Linked DNA regions of Homo sapiens. The protein of the gene in region 1 purifies or fractionates together with the protein of each later gene. This does not show direct contact. Each region holds a gene or a part of one and is shown in the gene's direction. Other genes may lie near its edges.

The links.
Region 2: the proteins of SLC26A7 (region 1) and ELAC2 purify together in Homo sapiens (affinity purification with mass spectrometry; one large-scale study listed by BioGRID and IntAct). This does not show direct contact.

Annotation. Positions count from the first base shown.
Region 1 is NC_000008.11:91,395,203-91,398,701, forward strand, and holds the end of SLC26A7 (anion exchange transporter), read left to right. Parts: 3' UTR 1-2,953; downstream 2,954-3,499. UniProt on the Homo sapiens protein: Acts as an anion channel mediating the transport of chloride, sulfate and oxalate ions. Mediates the transport of bromide, iodide, nitrate, gluconate, thiocyanate and bicarbonate ions.
Region 2 is NC_000017.11:13,011,451-13,015,280, reverse strand, and holds part of ELAC2 (zinc phosphodiesterase ELAC protein 2), read left to right. Parts: intron 1-784; coding exon 785-842; intron 843-2,005; coding exon 2,006-2,074; intron 2,075-3,498; coding exon 3,499-3,618; intron 3,619-3,830. UniProt on the Homo sapiens protein: Zinc phosphodiesterase, which displays mitochondrial tRNA 3'-processing endonuclease activity. Involved in tRNA maturation, by removing a 3'-trailer from precursor tRNA.

The DNA of each region.
Region 1 (3,499 bases):
CTGCTACAATAAGTACGATGTGACTTAGTAACTGCATAGCAGTTGGAAAGAACTGCCAACTTTTTTTTCTCATTTTTGTTAGTAAGAAGATTCGCTTAGTTATTTTATGTAAAAATCAGTATGTGTTTAGTTTTAGTGTACTGAAGGGTAAACATGGTTTTATTTTATTTTACCATATTATTTTGTGTTGTTTTATTTCTATTGTGCTGTAAGTTGATGTTTAAAATTGAGAAATACTTTTGTCATAGGTAATTTGGAACATTTACAAGCCATTTGTAAAATTTTAAGATAATCTGTAACTAATACATAAAAACAACTTAGCAAATGTGCCATTTTCACACAACTTCTCTCTGTATAGGCCTCTGAAATATCAATAAGGCTAAATATTACTTTACACAGTAAGATGTGAAATTCACAAAAAGTAAACCAAACAAAACGAATGAAAAACTGGAAATAATTCGTTTCCATATCTTTCCATACATCCATTTCTGAAGTATTCAGGAATGTTTTCATAATCGAAAGAAACGGGTATCCAAATAAAACCAAGTTCTTGACATTGGTCTGTTTTGCTGTGAATATTGGAAATGCTTAGGATCTTCAGACCCAATAGCTCTAATTTTAACATTTCTACCCAATAAGAGGCTCTGTTTTCCACTGAAGCTTTGTTGGAGAAAGAGAATATGAAAATTACACATTTTATAATTTTTAGATGAGAAAATACCACTAGCAGAATAGCTTTGTGCTATTCCAGTATAAGATGAACTGTAATAATTTTTGACTTCCCTATTTCAGAGATAGTCAATATAATATGTTTATCTATATCCATATGGATGGATAGGTAGGTAGATCTTCATAGATTTTTTTTTCTTTTGTTAGAGGAGAGCTTGATGTGATTATCTTCAAACCCACCAAACCAACAGGATAATTGACAAATAAACGCCATAGGCTAGGCTGAACTGTATGTTACTGTTTTCATGCTTATACATATATTTTCAATCACATACAAGTACATAGAATTTCACATTTTAATTTAGCAAATTGATTTACCTAGGAAAAAATTATCACCTTCAAAGATAGGCATAGACACATAATTATGCTTAAGCTTTTAACAGCATTTTAACCGCTCTAAAAATTACCAGAGTAAGAAAAAGCTAGGTACTTTAAAGTGAGTTTGAGAAACAAGTTGAAACTAAAATTAAAATACCAGCCATTTAGGTGCTTTCTCTGGCATCTATAAAAGTAAATTCTAGTGCCTGCCAAGTGATGGATTATAATGGTCTCTAGCAAATGTGTGGTAAACATTCATATGGCCATTAATTTTAACATTAAATCGTAGGTAGGGCAATGTAGTAAAATGAAAGAGAATTAAGAAAGGTTTTGAATTCTTATAACATATCCAGCCATTTCAATTTTGATTGAAATGAACTACAAAGAATAGTGTTTGTCCCTATGGTAGCCTCAGTCTCTTTATCACTAACTTGGATTGAAATGAGTGAGGCCAACTCACATTCCCATCAAACACTCTTCCAAGGAAAAGCAGAAGTAATAATTGGAGGTAAAGTTTCCTTAGAGAAAATAATTTTATTCTGCTTTGTCCAATTAAATTATTCCAATGGCGGATGGTAATATTCACCATCTCTAATTCATTGGTCACTGGTAGGTAAGCATGAGTTAAGGAAAGTCAAAAATGAAAATATATTTTGCTGTGTATAAATTGATATTTTGCTATGCAACTCCTGTAATTGAATTTGTATAATGCAGGCACTTTCTAATTTATTAGAGATTATGGATCAGTTCTGACATTAAAATCATAGTTAATTGATGGATGGTTTTTATAGTTTGTTGATAAAGTGGACACAGTATTGTCTGAGCAGTTATATTTTAATGCATTTCAGTGTTTATAGTAGAAGTTTAGTGGATAAAACTTTAAGTCCAATAACTTGGGGGTCAAATGCTAATGTTTTATTCAATGTAAAGGAAGACCAAACCATGTACCTTATGAAGACCTTTGTTTTAAGACTTCCACACACCAAGGCTACAATGACTGTTAACCTGGAGGAAGTCTCTGGTATGGAGTTCTGAGAGCTTAAGAGCTAAACATGAGTTTAGACACACAAGATTCTAAAATGCAAATGTTTATTTTGAAGCAGGCATTGACAACACAAAAACTGTGTAGTGGTCTTGATGCTGGATTGTTTCTAGAGTCACAATGAATTATTTTTATGAGATTACCTTATTTTTATATATGACAAACTACTTCTATAATGCTTATTATGGTAAAATAAAATTGGAAAAAATTAAAACTGACCTATAAGAGTGTTAAGGACCTAATAGAGTGACATATATAAATTAAGCATAAAATATGTAACCAGGAAAAGACTGTTAACATTACATTTATGCAAATTAAATGCCCTTAAATTTCACCATTTGTCTTTCATTTTAAAGGTTATTTGCTCCCGATTATATGATTCAAGTGTTATAAGTTTTAGCTTGAACTACTTTGCAGTAATTTATTTGACAGATCTCTATTCTATAAATGTGTAATGTGATGAAGAAAGAGATCTTTCTTTTTTAATGAAAACATTAATGTGTTAATACCCTGTATGGATAATGCTTGACATTTAGTGGTTTCCAAAATATATTAGTATATTGTTGAACATACATTATGCCTTAGAAATGCACATTCTGTATTTTGTGGGATGATAATCTAATTCAGTATAGAATATGCTGTTTGGCAATGAGTTTGTGGCCAGATTTCAAATAGGGAGTTAAGTGGTACTTTCACAATCCAAAGATTTTTAGTTAAAAATCATGTAGTCTAATATGCTGCAGTTATTTTTTTATATTTTTCAATGCATTTAATTATCTTTTTTATAATTCTTTGTACTAACTCAGCATGTAACAACCAATTTACATGGAAATAAATCGAAATATGATAACTATTATGCTTAAATGGATTTGCGTCTATTATTTCATAGTATTTACTCTCCTGCAAAGCAAATAATACATACTGTTTCTTGGAATGACCGCAGAGTATTATGTGTTGAATATTCCTGGAAGTATCCATTATTCTTGGTAATTTGTTCTTACAAAATCTCAACCTAGGACTGTAAGATACTGTGCCTTAATTTATGGACTGCTGATAAGAATACTTTTTGCTACAAAACTACATTTAGACATACTCTTTTACCAGATTTACATCCTTTGCATTTCAATTTTAATTAATATATACATTTTAATTTTTTATTTGCTTTGGCTCTTCATTATATACTGTTGTTTGTCTTTCCTGACTTCCTAGGCTGAATTCAATATTCTTCAGTCTATTAAAGGCTACTTTTCCAAAGACAAGAAGCGAAGGAAGTCTTCTAGGTGTTAGAGATATGGCAGATAATAAAACAGAAAAAGAATAAAAGCCCTCACAAACTTTGTTCTAACAAGGGAAGACAAAATAGAATACGTTTAAAATGCATTTATTGTAAGTTAGATGATAATATGTGCC
Region 2 (3,830 bases), on another chromosome or scaffold:
AAAATAACGTTTGAAATCCATCCATTTGTCTCTTATTGAGGCCTTCCTTATTTCTGTTTTCTATGCCTGTAAACTACAATAGCCTCCCATATTCATTCTCGCCTTCCTGTAATCCATCTGCCACACAGCAGCCAGAGAGGTCACTTCAAGACAGAAAAGTAGTGTGTCACTTGCCACCCTAAAGCCCTTCATGGGCTCCCCATTGCAATACAATCAAAACACCTTGATATGGCCTACAAGTCCTGTAGGCCCCGGCCGCTACCCACACTTCCATCTGTACCCATCGCTGAACTGCAGCTGCATGGGCTGACTCTTATGTCCCTCTAACTCCCTGGCCACTTCAGGACTTTCGCCCTTCCGCGGGTTCCCTCTGCCTCTTCTAATTGCTGCCTATATTGTTACTGAACCTTCAGGGCTCAGCTAGAGGGTCATTTACTCCAGAACTGCCTCTTCTTCTCTAGACAAGTTGGATCCCAGCCTTCTGTATTTTTCATTTTCCTTGCAGAGCACTTAGCATAATGCCACTAAGCTGTTTCTGTTATCGTGTTTCCTTTTGTCTCCTCCACTGGCCTGATTAGAGCAAGGCCTCCATCTCTTTTTCCTGCTATATCCTTGGCATCTGATATAATGGATACTCAGTAAATATTTGTAATAAATGATGTTCAAAATATTTACTAAGCTTTGTTTTATGTTGATACCTATTGGTAACCTTTTAAATACTTGAATAGTTGCTGTGTTCTACATTTGTTCAACCATAACTGCTCATTTCTTTGTTTTTCATTAGGAAAAATACCTCGAAGCAATCAAAATATTTTCTGGTCCATTGAAAGGAATAGAACTGGGTACGTCTTTGTCTGTGACTCATCCTCTGCTATTTCTAACTTATATATGCCCTGACCTCTCAAATTAGAATCCATTAAAAACATCAACATCAAACCTCAAAATCAAATGCTTCATCACCACGAGATTTTTTTTTTTTTTTTTTTTTTTGGATAGAGTCTTGCTTTCTTACCAGGCTGGAGTGCAGTGGCATGATCTCGGCTCACTGCAACCTCCACCTCCTGGGTTCAAGCCATTCTCCCACCTCAGCCTCCTGAGTAGCTAGGACTACAGGCGCATGCCATCACGCTCAGCTAATTTTTTGTATTTTTAGTAGAGACGGGGTTTCACCATGTTGGCCAGGATAGTCTCGATCTCTTGACCTTGTGATCTGCCCGCCTCAGCCTCCCAAAATGAGCTACCATGTGGCTGGAGATGGGATTTCTAAATAGTGACATTTTCTGTGTTCCCACCTCATGCTGTAAAAATAGGGGCCAGGTCGGCAGGAGTGATTGAACAGCTGATGCCTGCCTGTGTACATGCTGTGTGGCATTCTCCATCCAGACGGCAGGGCTCCTGCCTCAGTTCCAGAGGTGCTTCTCGTCGTTGAGTTGCTTTGAGTTGGGGGCGGGGGTGACAAGGGTTCCCTAGAGGTTTTGTGGCCAACTTTGTACATTGAAACGCAGCTCCAGCTGCGCAGGGGGGCTTACAGCCTCTTGATGGGAAGAGGCCTCACTGAGGATGCTAGTAGGGCTCTTGTCCTGGCACTGGTGTGTATCTGTGGCTTGTTAATACTCCTCTTTTATAGAAACACTAATACTTTGTTTCAAAATATACATCAGCTCTTCTGGTTTGCGATGATAGGTTCCCTGGCTTCACTATTCTGTTTGTTAACTTGGGTCTCTGAAAGTTGAGTACTAGTTTCTTGTTTTTCAATTTTTAACGGATAGTCACCAAAGATTATAATGTCTTTTCATCTGGCTGTAGTAAATATAAATGGCTGACCAAAATACACTTTTATTTATTTCCTAAAAATGGTAATCTCCTTAGAAAGTCTGGTTTTCGTGTCAGATTCCCACCATAATTCTGAGGCAATTCAGTTGCTCGTGGTTGGTGATCCTGAAGTTACTCTTCCCACACATCTTCACTAATGCAATCACTTTGCTGTTGTGTGGTTTTCTTGTAGCTGTGCGGCCCCACTCTGCCCCAGAATACGAGGATGAAACCATGACAGTTTACCAGATCCCCATACACAGTGAGTATGAAAGCCAGGTTTCCCAGGAGGAGGGTGTACGTCCTGAGTAAAGAAAACATGGATGAAAATAGAAACTGAACACTTGCTGTGGGCACCCTGTTTTGTGTTCTGAGCATGATTAGAAAATTTAGTTGAGGAATGAAGATATGGCTCCTGCCCTGGCTTATAAACTTACGGATGTCTGACTTATGCCTAATGATAGTGATTATGCTTTGGAATATTAGATAATCAAGCACTGTTGGTAAATAGATTGCATTCAAGTTTGCACATTCATTGCTTGGAGGTTTTTTCCCACAGGCGTAATACCCTCTTTTGATCAGACGATCATGAAGAGGTTTGCACAGATAGATTTTTTTAAATAAATAATGATTACAGCAACCTAAAAGAAGTGTTGTTGGGGGTTAGAAGCTCCTGCAAATTCCGAAGTATCAGGGCCAGATGATGTGGTCTTAGCTTAGGAAAAGAGTTAGTCTTGTCCTTGAACTTGGCTAAAGACATTCATGTCTGGTTTTACTTACATGTGAAGAGAGTACCAAGCAGTAGGGGTATTTCCTTGTTAGTACTAACTAATGTGATGCTTACTAAGTAGTGCTGATGGGTGACAGACCAGAGCACCCAGCAAAGGCCAGAGAAGTCCAGAACCTGGCGAGGAGATGAGGCTTACACTGACTGAAGGCAGAAGGCAGCAGGGAGGAGAGGAATGTGCCGGAGCAATGGCACAAGTGCTCCTAGGCCAGTGCTGTGATGAGCTGATCAGCACTCCCATTGCCTGGCTTGCTCCTCCTGCTCAGATGCCTTCTCTCACCTGACCCCTGCTGTAGCCACCCCCAGCCTGAGTTGCATCCACCTGTTTGTTGTCCATTTCCAGCACCCTGTTCTTCGCTCCATGGCATGTGACAGTTAACTTTCATATGTGATTTGCGTGATCGATGTTAACATGCTCAGTTTTGCCGATCACTGTTTTTTCAGTGTCCAGCGGCCCTCAGTGAGTGAACTTACGTTCATTCTCGTTGCAGCTGTGCTTTAGCTTCTTAGAGCAGCGAATTTTTTTCCCTTGATCTTGAGCCTTAACTAAATGTAAAATGAGGCTCCTTCTTGAGATAGGTACCCTTTGGGTCTATGTGTTTTAGCGGGAGTGATGATAATAAATAAGCATGTCTACAACCCACATGCTGTTTAGATAACACGTTGTTGAGTTGGTACTGTGGCCGAGGCTGTGAGCTAAGCAGAAACATAAACATTAATAGGACATAGGTGCAGCCCAGAAACCAGGTAGGAAGTTAACTAACTAGTTATTTCCTACTGTATAGTAAAAGGTGTGCTGATTTAATTGGCGTTCTGGCATTCCCATGTATGAACGTCTGGGCCTTGGCTGTCAGCTCACCTTGTGCAGTGTGTAATTTGGTGGTATCTGTACTGACCAGGTGAACAGAGGAGGGGAAAGCACCAACCATGGCAGAGTCCAGAAAGGCCTCTCAGCAGGCTCAGTCCAGAGCGATCTTCAGACTCCGAGTCGAATGAAAATGAGCCACACCTTCCACATGGTAATAGTATAAACAAAACAGAGCAGCAGAAAGGCTTGCGTTTTCTTAATTCTCTGCCTTGTAATGCTTGTAGAGAGTCATTATTGTAAGAAAGCCAGGTGTGTAAACAGATCCTTCTTCCTGGGCTTACTATAACTTGGCCCGTTGGGGGAATGAGAAGGGTTGTTGTAAAGGTGGCAGCCTGCAACTTTAATAATGACCAGTCCACAGTT